2 separate regions of the Homo sapiens genome follow, and region 2 is linked to region 1. A link means that fine-mapping ties the variant in region 1 to the expression of a gene that starts in the linked region. Tissue or cell type: unexposed skin. Region 1 holds a variant in brackets; the other region holds the start of a gene. All regions are shown on one strand. Distances are between the middles of the regions.

What was found. PIP is the estimated chance that this variant, and not a neighbour inherited with it, causes the effect.
Region 2: IGSF3 starts here. The variant in region 1 is fine-mapped to the expression of IGSF3 in unexposed skin (GTEx, PIP above 0.99). The same link has a PIP of 0.9 or more in esophagus mucosa.

What each region holds. Positions count from the first base shown.
Region 1 is chr1:116,617,857-116,625,959 of GRCh38, forward strand. The region is part of intron 2 of IGSF3 (immunoglobulin superfamily member 3); the gene reads right to left. Among named protein-coding and RNA genes, the nearest start is that of IGSF3, 46 kb to the right of the region's middle. RefSeq lists an enhancer at 1,247-1,754. The variant A/G (reference allele first, on the strand shown) is at 4,113.
Region 2 is chr1:116,663,813-116,671,915 of GRCh38, forward strand. It overlaps IGSF3 (immunoglobulin superfamily member 3), which reads right to left and starts at 3,921. Exons shown (of 11, transcript NM_001007237.3): 1 at 3,806-3,921; 2 at 2,472-3,144. The coding sequence starts at 2,514. MIR320B1 (microRNA 320b-1) reads left to right here and starts at 7,934; the gene lies at 7,934-8,005. RefSeq lists a silencer at 3,766-4,155.

The sequences.
Region 1 (8,103 bases):
GGCCCCTTGACAATGACACCATCGCTGGGCTGCCCACCTCCTCCCACAGCTGCAGCCCATTCTTGTGATAGCTTCCCTTTTCCCCCACAAATGGGAATGGCGGCTGCCCCGGCTATGCCTATCTGAAGTGGATCCAGCTGGTGAACAGCCGGGACAGCTCAATACTAGTGGAGTGCAGCTCTCTGCCCAGCCCAGCAGGGGACTGTGCCTCAGTGTAAGCTAATCTAATCTGCAAGATGACAGACCTCAAAAACGGCCCATACAATGAAATGCCCATGGCTTGCAAAACTTTAATTCATGCAGAACCTTTCCTCACAAACAAAATCTTACACAGAACCCCATCTTGGCTTCAGCAGAATCAGGAAAAATACAAAATTGGCAGGGGAAGGAAATAAACAGAACAAGTGGTATCTGAATTTATTTGATATATTCTGGTTGATGGCATTAATTATGATATTTAAAGTAACCATGAGGACAACTCATTAGTAATATCAGTATGTTAAAATATGATGCATAACATTTTTACTATATGTACAGTCATGCACTGAATAACATTTCAATCAATGAGGAAACACATGTGCAACAGTGATCCTGTAAGATTATAATGGAGCATATATAGAGATCTAATATATGGCACTTAATGTTGGCATGGCAGATCAAGTAGGGGAAATGACTGATATTCAGTAACAGTGCTGGGACATTTCATTTTCCATAATAAAATATATAAATGAAAATATATATCCCATCTAGGTTTGTTGAAGTACACCCTATGATGTCCACACAAGAATGAAATTGCCGAATGATGCACTTCTTAAAACATGTCCCCATCATTAAGTGACCCATGACTGTATACACACACAAATATGGTGACATTTTAATCAAATGATTGCAGTATTCCTGAAACACAGAACATTTTGCAAACAATTTAACTACATTCATAACATTAGGTATCCTTTGAATTGCGGTGTTCTATGACAGCGCAACTACAACCAACCCCCATACATCTCCTGCAAAGAAGGCTAGAGGCAAGTCAGGGTACACCAGCATCTTTAAGGACTGCTTCTCAATCCTGGACCTACACTGGAATCACCTGGGGAGCTTTAAAGAACTAACAGTGCCTGGACCCCACCTGACATAACTGGTCTTAGGATTAATTAGGATTTTTTTTTGAAGCTCCACAGATGATTCAAATCAGGTGTAGCAAAGCACTGTTACTTTAAAGTGTCTCTACCTACATGGTGCCAGCCAAGTGCTCAAATGAAATATCTTAAGGCTCTCACTAGCTTTAAGTTTCTCTCTTTGGTAGAGACCCAATCACTGGTTCAAGAAAGCTTCATTCTCCTCCAGTCTTCCCCAGTGCAAAAGAAAACATCTGAGACCCATCAGATACTAGCATTTGTGAGGCAATAACGAGTTTAACCAGAATGCATCCTATTTACAGACCTTACAAAGGCACTCGGCCAGCGGATCATGCACGTCCTCCCCACCCAATGGTAAACAGTGTTAAGTGGCCTGAATGAGCCAGGACAGCAGGGTCAAATCAACTTGTCTAGGCTGGAAGCAGGTTATAAACAATCCAGACAAATAACTACTGGATTGCACTTTAACCACACACATTCAGCTGCACCTGTTTATTAAATACCTCCTTAATTTCCCTCTGCCCCACAAAGGGCTTCTGACCCCTGAAAATAATGCTTCTCAACATAAAAATAATTGTTTTCTTCTTGGCAGTTTAATTCCCCTTCCACACATCCCACCCCACCATTCCCCTATAATAGTAATACCCTGCTGTGCAGACCTCTGCTGCCTCCAAAGAGACACAGGCTCCCAAACCTGACCAGGGCATCCTCTGACCCACAGCCCCTCTCTCTCCCCTCCCAACCTACAATAGAAAGTTCCTCCCAGGCAAGGATCTTTTTTTTTTAAATAACTTTTTTAACTTTAGACATTCTGTACTCTTTGGATTACTCTGCAATAAGCAAATATGACTTCTGTAACATAGAAAGAAAGATCAAAATGTTATATATAACTGCATGAAAAGAACTAGAAAGAAAATACTAGGTGACAGGATGGCAAGTGATTTTTATTTTTTTCTTAATATTTTACTCCTTCCCCCAGTCCTCTGCAATGAGTATGTACCAGTTTTATAACTAGAAAAAAATTTTAGCCAAAAATAAAAATAATGCATGTTTGCTATATAAAATTCACTACTGTAGTATTTATATATATATACATATTTGGTCTTTGTCCCCAGTTCCTGGCACTGAGCTCCTAAACCCCTTGGAACTTCCTAAGCAATGGGAGTACCTTTTGTTATTTATAAGAAGCCCCTTTTGGCCATCCCAGAGTTTATGCTAACGAGGTGACTGAAGGTGAGCACGGAGGCAGTTTCAAGGAAGGAGCTGGCCACGCTTAGAGTTGTGGAGTTTTCCGCCCCAGCCTTAGACCTCCAAGGACAAGAAGGGGACTGCAGATTGATCCAATCAGCATTGGTCAGTGATTTGATCAGTCATACCCATGTAATGAAATCCCATATGAAAACCCTAAATAATGGAGTTAGGAGAGCTTCTGGGTGCTGGAAGCGGCGTGCACCAGGAGAGGGCATGGGCAGTCAGCACTACTCCCCTCTCAGACCTTGCCCTATGCACTAAATAGGACTGACCTACGTGACCAATAGGAAATGCACAAATGGTGGAATGTGACTTCCAGGGCTAGGTCATAAAAAGACAAGCATGATGTTATGAGGACATCAAAGCAGCCATATGGGGAAGACCACATGAGGCCTCCTGCCAACAGCTAGCACTAACTTGCTAGCATGTGACTGGAAGTAGATTCTCCAGCCACAGTCAACTCAGTCAAGCCTTCAGATAATGTCAACCCCAGGCATCTTTTTGTTGTTGTTGAGACAGGGTCTCACTCTGTCACCCAGGCTAGAGTGCAGTGGTGCAATCATAGCTCACTGCAGCCTTGACCTCCGAGGCTCAAGTGATCCTCCCACATCAGCCTCCTGAGTATCTGGGACCACCAGCACACACCACCATGCCTGGCTAAATTTTTTATTTCTTATAGAGACGGGATGATATGGTTGGGGTCTCTGTACCCACCTAAATCTCATGTTCAATTATAATCCCCAATGTTAGAGGTGGGGCCTGGTGGGAGGTGACCGGATCACAGGAATGGATCTTTCATGAATGATTTAGCTTCACCCTTTTGGTGCTGTGCTTGTTAGAGTTCTCACAGTATCTAATTGTTTAAAAGTGTGTGGCACCTCCCCCCTCTCTCTCTTGCTCCTGCTTTGGCCACGTAAGGCGCGCCTGCTTCCCCTTCACCTTCCACCATGATTGAAAGTTTCCTGTGGTTGCCCCAGAAGCCGAGCAGATGCCAGCATTATGCTCCCTGAACAGCCTGTGGAACTGTGAGACAATTAAACCTCTTTTCTTTATAAATTCTCCAGTCTCATGTATTTATAGCAATGTGAGAACTGACTAATACATAGGGTCTCACTGTGTTGCCCAGGCTGGTCTCAAACTCCTGGGCTCAAGTAATCCTCCTGGCTTTGCTTCCCAGAGTGTAGGGATCACAGGCATGAGCCACTGAACCTGCCCCTTTCCCCCCAACAACATCTTGACTGCAACCTCCTGGGAGACTCCGAGTCAGAAGTATCCAGTTAAGATGTTACTGACTTTCTGAACCACAGAAACTGTGAGATAATAAACATCTATTGTTCCTTTAAGCCTTAAGTTTGGGGCTTTTTTTTTTACATCAATATATAACTAATGTAGACACCTGCAGTCCCTAAGATTGAATGCAAAATTGTGTTACATACACATGAGTGTGTTCTTCTGGGAAAAGAGTCCATAAACTTCAAAAGATTCTCAAAGGAATTCAAGACCCAAAAAGATTAAGAAACATTGCATCAGACAATAAATTGTCAATGAGCAAGGTCCTGTCCTTTTAGATTGGGTTTTGAAATCACCCATCCCACAAATACATGATACCACTTAACTAGTTTTTCAAGATATTTCTTGTTCAAAGATGCTCCCACTTTTTCTTTGTGCTCAAGTCCTAGATAAACCTGGCTAGGGGCAGGAGGTATGACTCAGGAGTTAGTG[A/G]GCAGGGAGGGGTCACTGTGTCTGGGAAAGCCAGCTTCTCATGCAATTTTTGGAATATGCCTTGGCTCAGAAACCTACCTCTCTAGGCACAGGATCCAACTTATATGTTCAAGATGCGTGACTGAGCATGTGAAAGTGTCAGAGGGATCGACCTCACCATTTTACATCTACTTTTCCAGTTATGGCCTCTACAATCATCAAAGCTCATTCAGCACCATGCTCCTCCAAATTCTGCATGCGACTCAGCCACACTAGTATCTTTCTTCATCTATAAGATGAAAGTAATACAACATACCATGTAGCAAACTCACAGGAGACCCTAGAGATCAAATAATACTGTGAAAGCCACCAAATGAATATTTTAAAATTTTATCTCATTTCTGCCAAGGTGAGATATCAATATATAAACAGGATAAATCTTTGTAAGTACAAGAACATTAAAAAGAACATTAAGTTTGGGTAAAAAATGCAAAACTGCATATGCAGTAAAATTACATTAAAAAAAAAAAATCCTACACCTACAAAAACAACCAAACAAAACATTGATGATACTGGGCTGAATCGCTGAATGGTGAGAATTTGAGTGATTTTCTCCTCTCCTATTTTTCTCAATACCTTTTCTCTATTATCTCCTTTTTTTAAATAAGCAAGTATATATTGTTCTAAACTGAAGACAAATGATCATAATGAGTAGCACTTTCCCAGGCACTGTCCTAGTTTCTCTGCATACATCATCTCATTTAATCCTCACAACAGTGAATGGGGTCGATTTCATTACAGCCACATTTACCAGACAAGGAAATGGTTTTCAAGGTTAAGTAAACTTCTCATGACACAGAATGTGACTAAGAGTTTTCTTATTCCATGGCTCACACTAAATGTGCTCTGTGAATATCAGTGAGAAGTAATAAAGCACTGACTGGATCTTCTTGCCCACCTGGTCCTAAAGGAAATGATGGGGAATCTATGCAGTCCCAAGTTAAAAATGGGAACTGAACTGAGCTGCCACAGCATGCTGAATTGGTGGAGTCCAGGCCAACTAAGTGCTTCATGGAACTTAAAGGCTCCAGAGAGAAAGCAATCGGGAAGGCCACTTCCACAGGCACATCGGTGACAACTTCTGGGGATTCTTACCTGTCAGCCTTCGGCCAAGGAAGGACAGGAAGTGGCATGGGCTAAAAGATCCTTTGTTTGACCTCTTTCCAGATCAGGTGACAGGAAAACACAACACTTGAACCTTTCCAATAAGGACAGCCAGCACTTACTGAGCCCCAGCCAGGTAACTGACACTGTTCCAAGTACTCTGCTTGTATAACCAGCTTTAACCTTGCAACAGCCCTCTGAGGTCAATACTCCTAGTGACCTCACTTTACGGATGCAGAATCTGAGGCAAGGAGTTAGGGAGTAAATGAAGCTGGCTAAACACACTTGCACTGGCCAGGCACGGTGGCTCATGCCTGTAATCCCAGCACTTTGGGAGGCCAAGGCAGATGGATCACTTGAGGTTAGGGGTTCGAGACCAGCCTGGCCAACATGGTGAATCCCCAGCTCTACTAAAAATACAAAAATTAGCCGGGTGTGATGGCACACGCTATCAGGAGGCTGAGGCAGGAGAATTGCTTGAACCTGGGAGATGGAGGTTGCAGCAAGCCGAGATCGCACCACTGCACTCCAGCCCATTCGGTCAATGTCACTGCCATCAAGGGACAGTCTAACCAAGGTCCAGATGGCACAAGTGGAACCATAAAACCAGGACAGCTCGAGGTTCAGCTTCCCAAGCCCACAGGTGCAAGGACCTTATCTGGATCCATACTTTCATCAAAAATGTCCCTTGAGGCCAGGCACAGTGGCTCATGCCTATAATCCCAGCACTTTGGGAGGGCGAGGCAGGTGGATCACCTGAGGTCAGGAGTTCGAGACCAGCCTGGCCAATATGGTGAAACCCTGTCCCTACTGAAAATACAAAAATTTAGCCCAGCATGGTGATGTGCGCCTGTAATCCCAGCTACTCCGGAGGCTGAGGCAGGAGAATCGCTTGAACCCAGCAGGTGGAGGTTGCAGTGAGCCGAGATCATGTCATTGCACTGTGGGCTGGGCAACAGAGAAAGACTCTATCTAAAAAAAAAACAAAAAAAAGGTCCCTGAGGATCCCTCGAGCCTGGGAGGCCGAGGCTGCCGTGAACAATGATTGTGCCACTGCACTCCAGCCTGGGTGACAGAGCGAGATCTTGTCTCAAAAAAAAAAAAAAAATGGCTCTTGAAACAGCCATCAATTCCCATGTGATAAATGCACTGTCACAATCCAGCAGCAAACCTAAAGTTTGGATCGAATTCCTAAGTCTTCGCCTTCACTGACTTCCCACAGCATGGGCAGTAGCTGTGAGATCTTGGGCTGGTTACTTAACCTCTCTGCACCTCAGTTTCCTCATCTGTAAAGTGGTATAATTGTCACAGCGTTATGGAAGGATTAAATGAGTTGCTACATTTAAAACTTAATTCCTGGCACACAATAAGTGCTCAATAAATGTTTAGCCACTAGTTGCAGTAGTAGCAATAGTAGTGATATTAACTCTAGCTGTGGAACTAATTTCTCCCACACACCGTGGCAGGTTGTATTCTCCAGACACAGCAGTAACAATATCTCCTTCCCACATGCTCTTTTGCAATGTGACCATGCCACACACTCCCATCAAGAGGTGGAGTTTAGAATAATTCCCTTCTCTGTGTATCTGGGCAGGAAGTCACTGTGTGGCTTCCAATCCTAGGTCATGGAAAGTGATGTAGCTTCCATTTCACTCAGGGTGTCCTGAACCACCACATAAGACAGCCAACGGTCCTGAGGCCATGCTGTGAGGGGGCCCAAGGCACATGGAGAGGCCCTGGGCAGGTGCTCCAGTCCAGAGCTGGCTCCAGCCAGGTCCACCTGCCACAATGTGAGTGAATGAGCCAATCAGCACCCAGCTCCACCTGCCACCATGTGAGTGAACAAGCCTCCACTGTGAGCTGCCCCCAGCCTTGGAACTTCCAGCCATGCCTGCTGTGCCTCTAAATTCTCGACCCACAGATTCTGTGAGCATAACAAAATTGTTGTTTTAAGCCACTGAGGTTTGGAAACATTTGTTACATAGAAAGGTAACAAGAACATATGCTATGGCTTCAATCAACATTTTTTTCAGTACCTATTATGATGGATACTAGGACAGAAACTGTGAGGGAGAGATTGATAAGACATAGTTGACAAGTTGTCCTAAGCTGACAATCCTAAAATAAATACACATAACTAATCATTTTAATGGTATACAATAGCAGTGAGGTGCAAAGTGCAAGGTTAAGCCCTTTCAGAAAGTGAAAGCATTCAAAAAGCCTTCAAAAAAGCAGTGACATCTGAATTGGGTCCCAAAGCACAAGGGAAATATATACCACGTGAAAACACTGCAGTGCATTCCAGGATTAGCAAGAAGTTTGCGGAGGTCGTTTTGTCACATGACTGGAGGGCACATCAGTGCCAGGCGGAAAAGGGCACCGAAAGGCACATTAATAAAGTCAAACACCTCCTCTGGGACTGGGGAAGTTGAGAAAGAGCCTAACAGAGGTAAGGAAGAAGACGGATCAGATTTACGCTTTCGAATTATCACTCTGGTGGCAGGTGGAGGACAGAGCAGAGGGCAGGACTGGAAGCAGACAGACCAAATTCACAGTCAAATGCGACAAGATGAGGGCCTGGCCTGGTTTTAAATCCAAGGACAAAAATATCATTCATTCACTCTTTCATTCTTTCTCTTATCTGAATCCCCAGTGGTACCTAAAATAGAGCTGGTCTAAAGATGATGATTAATGAATGTTAAATTATTGATACTACTTCTAAGAAGATGTAACTGCCAGCTACAGAACCATCCAAAAGGACTGCAAACCCAGTAATTCATTTCATCCCAACCTGACTGATCTCTCTGATGTCTGCACTGCTGTGTCACTAGACTGCCTGATTGTCCTA
Region 2 (8,103 bases), 46 kb after region 1:
CCTGCATCGGTCTCACTTTCAGAGCACTTAGCCTTATCCAACTTTTTTAAACAAAATTTTATTCCAGGCATGTGACCTATATGGGCTTAAAACCTTGGGATTCTTCGCTGTTTTAAATTCATACTACACATTAATTCACATTATGCAGCAAGAATGCTGACACATGAACCAGACCACATCAGAAGACAAGCAGGAAATAAGACCCCAACATGGGTTTTGCTCCCTCCCCAAACGCCTTCTACCTCTCCCAGATTAGTAAAGTAGTAGCCAGGCCTCCTTCCTGCCATACTGAGAGCCATCAGGTGAAGAGAAAGATGAGGTTCCACCAGTGGGGCTCCAAATCAGGCAGAGATCCACATGCATGCCTACAGTTCCAAACCTTCCCACTTCAGCCTGCATCTGGATGTCTGCCACTGTGCCCCTTTAAAGCCACCTTGATGCTCATTTTCCTCCATGGCACCTGTTTACACATGAAGATGAGGGTGGAGGGAAAATGACAGCACCTGCCAGGTGCCAGGGCCCGAGCTCCACTCCACAGAGTGGCCCAGAGAGCGAACAGCAGGGGGACCAGCATGCAGCCTTACATTACTTGAGCAGCCAGAAGAAACAAAAGGCACAAATGTCACATTGCCTTGTTTTCCCATTGATGGTTACTTCTCCTGCCCTGGGCCCCACCCTGCCACTCAGCCCTCTTTCCCGCCTTAGCCACACACCCCACCCCACATCCAAACCTCCCCAAGGGCTTTCCTTGTTTGTGTCCTGTTGAATCCACATGAATCACTAATTGCTGATTTAAACCCAGACACTAAGCGAATGACACATACAGTACAACAAATACAGATCCAATATGAAGAGACTGGCAAATGAAGGGCTCCCTGCCTTCTTGACTCTGCCTGAGCATACAGGTGACATGGAGACACTGCCTGTATCCCAGCCCACAGCTGAACAGAAGACTAACTAAACTACCAGCAGGGTGTCTGCATGCGTTGGGTGGTAGGGCACTGGCGCTAGTGAACTCACCCACTGGTTCTCTACTGAACCATGCATGGAATTACCTGAGATAGCTCAAAGGCTGAGACCTGGGTCCCACTCCCTAAGCGAGTTTGGTTTCACTGATCTGGGGTTGTTGCCTGAAATCAGAATTTTTAAAAGCTTCCCCAGTGATTCCAACATGCACACGAGAGTTTGAGAACCACTGATTGCACAAATCTATTATGAGTTTCAGACATTATTTAAGGCAGTCAAGGCATTTAGGACACCTTATATCCTTTAGTTATCACACCTTCCCTTGTTTTATTGTTTCTGTTTTATTGACATTCAGATGTCAATCATGGTGAAGCTGGGATAGGAACTCAGGTCCTCTAATTCTAAAGTCCATTCTCTTCCCACACACCTGTTACCTACTGCAAGGGTGTAGACAATGCATGGAAGCAATCTCCACTGCCAACAGATCACCCTAAGTTCCCTACGTGCAAGACACCTAGATTTGGAGACGTGAACCCTGTAGGCAACAATCATAATCCCTTCTGAATGCAGAGGACCGAGCCTTACAGAGAGGGCAGGGGGTGTGCTCATGTATGAGGTCTGAGATGGGGAAAGAGAATGGCACCAAATCCTGGCAATGAAGTTTATCCTAGACCTGAGATGTGTTCTAAGACAGCACGCTGAAGACAGTGCTCAATGGCATAAAAAGAATAGGCAATTGTTGAGCAGAGGGGCCTCTTCACTGGGGTGAAGGTCCTGCATCTGCACCTTAAGAGGGGTGTCAAAGGTTCACCTCTCAGGGCCATAGTTTCTTCTTCCCACTCTAGGCATTCTGATTTGTGGGAGCACAAAAGCCAATCCTAAAATCTCCCCTACCAGGCAGCTTCCTTTTCTTCAGGCTCTCCTTCTCCCAGAACTACGATCTAAGCTTCCTTGGTGAGGAGACACAGGACTAGTGCCCTCACATTTTTAGCCTTCAGACCACTCAGGTAGGCAAAGCATCCCTTCAACCCCCATCCCACTTACTCCCATTTCCACCTCAAAAAAGGCACCATCATTATCACCCAAACCAACTTTCGAGACAGAGGGGAATGATGTTCCCACTCCCAATTAGGAATCAATGCAGCCCAACAAAGAAGTGAAAACACCAGAGCATCCATGTTTGACATGCTACAAGACAGCAGCCCACCAGCCATGTGAAGTCCCTAAACCACAGATGTGCAGATGCAGGACCTCACCCCAGGGGCCAAGACAGACACTTTAAGAACAGCAAATGTTCCTTCTTATAGATAACAAATGATATTCCACCGTTGCTCTTGGGTTAGAAACGGGCCTCTTCGTACTCTACTCCAACCTGTGACACACACCGACCGCCTCCTGGTGTCCCCCAAATCCTAGTGTTGATGAAAAAGAACCACGAGAAATTACAGGAACCAAGAGCAGGTTAAACTTTCACATCGATTGCACTGATAAGCAGAGCCACTTACCCAGCACAGCCAGACAGCTCAGCACCGGGAAAAAGCACTTCATGTCGGCAGCCTCCAGGAGACACAACACAAGGCGCTTCCTCTTCTCCCAGCTCCTAATCTCTCATTTCTGGCAATCCACTTATAGCTCCAGAGAACAGTTTTGGAAATAGAACTTAACTCGGAAAATGGGAACAGATTAAAAAGAAGAGATCAGAAGGAGGGAGTTGGGGGGAAGGGGAGGAGTGGAGGCAAGTGTGAAAACTCCCCTATGCTACAGGAAGGGTCCACAACAATTCGGAAGTCGCTCCCGGCTCCTGCCACATCGTGTGCCTTGCAGTTTCCACTGAAATTGCAGACTGTAGTGGATTAATCCTCCAGAAGCACGGAAAAAAGGGTCTGAGAAAATCCTTTCATCCACTGATTATACAGAAATGTCCTTGGCTTCTCAGTGAAGGTGTCTGTGATCTCCCTCATTCGGATTCCCCAGAGAGAACAGGGCAGGTTTCGTCAAAACCTTTGACGGCCAAATCACCCTGCCTGGCATCAACCGTTTGGGTTTCTTCACCAAAAAGTCCGTTTCCATCCATGGTGGTAGGTCACGGAGGCGCCACCTGCCCCACGCCTGCCTAGGGCACACGAAGCAAGTTGGCGTTCGGCAGCCCTGAAGCGGTACCCCAGCGCGAGCAGATTTCTAAAACAAACACAACAGAGATTTTTATCAAAGGCAAAGCTGCAAAACCCACTGGGGCTGAGCGCTGAGCTGGTCCGGACACCTGGGTCCGGTTCCTGGACCAGGACAGTCAACCTCTGCATTCTGACCTTGGGCAAGTCTCTGTCTTTCCCTCCGCCTCAGTTTCCCTGCCCAGAGCAGGGCAACAGTGGGAAGCCCGATTGTTCCTGAAATACTTCCACCAAATGCTTCACTCCTGGGAATTCCCGTCACCTCCTACCGAGCCCGGGCGCCGCAGGTAGCCCCACCCTCCGCCAGGGCAAATCGGGAAGGGGCTCCGCGGTGGGGCCGCGACTCCCGGCCCCCGCCCCAACCGTGGGAGCTCTGCGCGCGACGCGTCCCAGGTGGCCCCGCTATTGTTTTACCTTGCAGGGTGTTTATATCTCGCTGATTGGAAAGAAAAGAAACCGGGGAAGAAGGGAGTCCGGAGCTCCGCTTTCAGCTGCCGGAGCGCGCTCGCAGCGCGCCCGCCCAGCCAGGGGAGGGGTCTCGGGCCCGACCCGGAGCTCAGCCGGCGCGGGCCCGCTCCCCACTCCCCGCTCCCCGCTCCCCGCTCCACGCCTCCCCGCCTCCCTCCCCGGGGCCCCCTCCGGGCGCCGCCCGCGCCCCCGCCGAGCCTGACCTCGCCCCTGGCCCTCTCCCTCCGCGCGCGTCGGACCGTCCTTCAGTCCATCCAGGCGCACGCCTCAGGGGACGCGCCGCTTCCTCTTCTCCCGCAACGGCACCAGCAGCCGCGCTGCGGCCCCTCCCGAGTCCCCGCCCCTCCAGCTCCAGCCCGGCCCGCCGCACTCGGCGAGGCGAGCGCGGGGCCAGGGCGGCGGCCTCGAAGAGAGGCCCGGCCCCGCCCCCGGCCCCGCCCCTGGAGACGCGAGTCCCGGCCCCGGGCCTGGCGGGGGCATGAGGGTGGCCCGGGGCACCGGAGGACCTGGGCAGGGCTGGCGTGTGGGCCGAGCAGCCCGGCAAGTTAATCAGGGCTTCACACCCAGACTCCGGGGCCGCCGGCGAGATGTACAGGCCCTTCCCAAAGCCCAGCTGGCCACCCATAACCTGGGAAGCCGGCGGCACAGAAGCTCGTCCTTCCTCCTGGAAACAAAAACAAAGCCCTTTGGAGACTTGAATCTGTTCACGAAGTGGAACCCCATATTGCACTTCACTCTTGGATAGAATTTGGACTCTGGAAACAGCCTGGGTTCTAACGCCGGTTCCTCCACTTCCTCGCTGTGGCCCTTGGCAAGTTACTTAACCTCTCTGTGCCTCAATTTCCCCATCTGCTATGTGGAGGAAATAACCCTTACTTAAGAGGGTTATGGGAGAAATCTGTGACATACTTGTAAAGCATTTAGAATGGTGCCTGATACATCACAAGTGGTCAGTAAATATAAGCTATTATTATTTTATGACCAACCGCCCTGTAAAGCAAGTGCTTTTTCGTTTTCTCACTACTTACCCAACACACACAACTTGCTGGGTAGACACCGTCACGAGGCGACCAAAGCAGAATAGACCGCCCTGCCCTCATGCAACTTGCAGTCTAGTGGGGACACAGACCATAAAATAGACATGACAAGAAAAGTACAGTGTTGAGGAAGCAAATGCAGAGACCCCAACCCTGTGTTATTGGGGGAGGGGCAAGGAGGAGGGAGCTTTGGTCGGGGTAGGTCCCAGGCTTCTCAGAGGAAAGGAAAACTCGGTTGAATGCCAAAGAACAGAAGGCAGCAGCAGAGGAAGAGACAGAGGGGAGGTAAGGAATCGCAGACTGAAGAAACAGCACCTCTGCAGGCCCAGAAAGGAGCCCAGTTAGAGGACCAGGACAGTCTGCTGGGCCCAAACTTGACTGTAGGAGAGAAGTGACAAGAAATGAGCTGAGAAGAAATCGAGTGCCAGAACCTAGAGGGCATTGTATGGTGTGTTAAGGGGTTGGGACCATTGGGAAGCCACTGAAGGTGTTGAGTAAGGGACTATGGTTATCAGATATACGTTTTATTTTTCATTTTATTTTAAGAGACAGGTTCTCACTCTGTGACCCAGGCTGGAATGCAGTGGTGTAATCTTGTCTCACTGCAACCTCCACCTCCCGGGTTCAAGTGATTCTCCTGCCTCAGCCTCCTGAGTCACTGGGACTACAGGCGTGCACCACCACACCCGGATAATTTTTGTACTTTTAGTAGAGACAGTGTTTCACCATGTTGGGCAGCCTGGTGTTGAACTCCTGACCTGGTGATCTGCCCGCCTCAGCCTCCCAAAGTGCAGAGATTACAGGCATGAGCTACTGTGCCCAACCAGGAATCTTTCCTTGTGTGTTAATTATTACCTCTTTCCCAGAGACACCCGTGACTCTGGCAGCTCTCAGTTCCCATTTGCTAGACTCCTTCATTTATTTATTGAGCACCTACTACGTGTTAAGAAAAGTCTCTGCTCTCATGAAGCTTACATTCTGGTGGGAAACACAGACAATGAAACAAGTATATAATATAATGTAACGTGTTCTGAAGAAAAGTGGAGTATAGAAATGTGTGGGCGGGCACAGTGGCTCATGCCTATAATCCCAGCACCTTGGGAGGCCAAGGCAGGGGGATCACTTGATGTCAGGAGTTCGAGACCAGCCTGGCCAACATGGCGAAACCCTGTCTCTACAAAAAATACAAAAATTAGCCAGCCGTGGTGGTGCACACTTGTGGTCCCAGCTACTTGGGAGGCTGAGGCATGAGAATCGCTTGAACCTGGGAGGCAGAGGTTGCAACGAGCTGAGATCACACCACTGCAGTCCAGCCTGGGCAACAGAGCGAGAGTATCTCCAAAACAAACAAACAAACAAATAAAAAACAGAAAGGAAAAGAAATAGTGTGTATGTTTGGGGGTTCCAGTGGGAAGAAGGACTCTTTGCTAGGTGAGGTGGTCAGAAAAGACCCCTCAGAGGAAGTGACATTTGAGCGAGACCTGATTACAGGGAGTGTGTGAGCGCTGGAGATTTCTGGAGTAAGAAGATTCCAAGTGCAGGGAACAGCAAGTGCAAAGCCCCATAACATGTTCAGAAAATTAAAGGTGTGTTAGTGTGTCTGAAATGGCATAAAACAGAAGGAGAAGGAGGAATGTGATCAGAGAGGTCAAAGAGGCCAAATCTAGTAGGACCTTCTAACCTGAGGAGCTTGGCTCACTCTGGCTGCTGGGTAAGAATAGAGCATCAGATGGTAGGGGTGGACAAGGGACACTGGATGGGAGGTTCTTTCCATTGCGCAGGTGAGAGATGATCACAGCTTAAACTAGGGTGGTGCTGATGCAGGTTGTGGAAATGGGTGGAGTCTGAAAGCATTTAGAAAGCAGAGTCAATGAAATTCTCTGAAGAACTGAATATGGAGGGGGAGAGAAAGAGAAGAGTCAAGGAATCTTCCAGAAGGGGCATCTCAGCCTGCTTTGGAACTCTCTGACCCCCACCAAGGTGTACCCCCATCAAGGTGCAAGACTGTACTTTCTGAGGCCTCTGCCTAGGCCTTCATCCTTGAACCCCTATACTCAATTATCCCTTCTCTATTACTCGTTCTTTCAATCTCAACCTGCCCCTCTTCATACTACTTGGCCCCTTGCATCCTTCTGGATGATCTTTCAACCCTTGACTTCCATCACCACCCAGATGTGTTATGGCTGATTCCCAGCATGGCATTCTTTCTAATTTCCACATCTACGATATGCAAAGAACTGTGCAAAGTGTTGGATGGGGAGACAAAAGTATAATTTAAAAGAATGCCTCTGCCCTCCAGACATAGAAACGATTAAATGAGTCCTGAACAGTGATGTGATGGTGGCCCCTTCAGGAGTTCATCAGCAGGCAGAGAAGTGAATTGGAGGCTGGGTACAGTGGCTCACCCCTATAATCCCAGCACTTTGGGTAGCTGAGGTGGGCAGATCACCTGAGATTGGGAGTTCAAGACCAGCCTGACCAACATAGAGAAACCCTGTCTGTACTAAAAATACAAAAAATTAGCCGGCCATGGTGGTGCATGCCTGTAATCCCAGCTACTCAGGAGGCTGAGGCAGGAGAGTCTCTTGAACCCGGGAGGAAGAGGTTGCAGTGAGCCAAGATCGTGCCATTGCACTCCAGCCTGGGCAACAAGCTCCAGCCTGGGCAACAAGAGCGAAACTCTGTCAGAAAGAAAGACAGAGAGAAAGAAAGGAAGGAAGGAAGGGAGGGAGGGAGAGAAGGAAGGAAGGAAGGAAGGAAGGAAGGAAGGAAGGAAGGAAGGAAGGAAGGAAGGAGAAAGAAAGAAAAGAAAGAAAGAGAGAGAGAAAGAAAGAAAGAAAGAGAGAGAGAGAGAGAGAAAGAGAGAGTCCTAAGGGAAGGAGAGATGTCAAAGGAGAGGAGTGCACCGAAGTCCCCAGTCAGCAATGTCTGGTGCCCGGGCTGAACATTCCAGCTTGCTTCAAAACATTCTGCATTTGAATTTTGAAACCTCTACTGCACCGGCCTGGAATCAGTTGTTTATTTTGGACATTTTGGAAGACTCCTTGATCTTGTCCATCAGGGAGTTAAATGCAGAAGCCTGCAGAAGCCGAGCTGAAGCACAGTGCCAGGGAGTACTGGGGCCTGTGCACCCAGAGCACAGCCTGAAAGAGCACGCACAGCTTCAGCAAAGTGTTGCTGCTGGGAAGGAAGGTGTGGTGTTGCCTGATTTTCCTACTTTTTAAGAGAATCAGGAAATCCACATTAAAAAAAAATTATTCTTAATTTTGCTCATTGGAAACTAGTGTTTCAAAAATAAATTAATCCCTCTCTTTCTAGTTCTTCCTAGAGTGAGGAAAAGCTGGGTTGAGAGGGCAAACAAATTAACTAATTAATTAACTAATTAAACACTTTGGGGGGGCCAACACAAAATTTTTTCGTGGATAAGATATGGCCAAGTGGTTATATCAGTTTGAGGTTTCTAG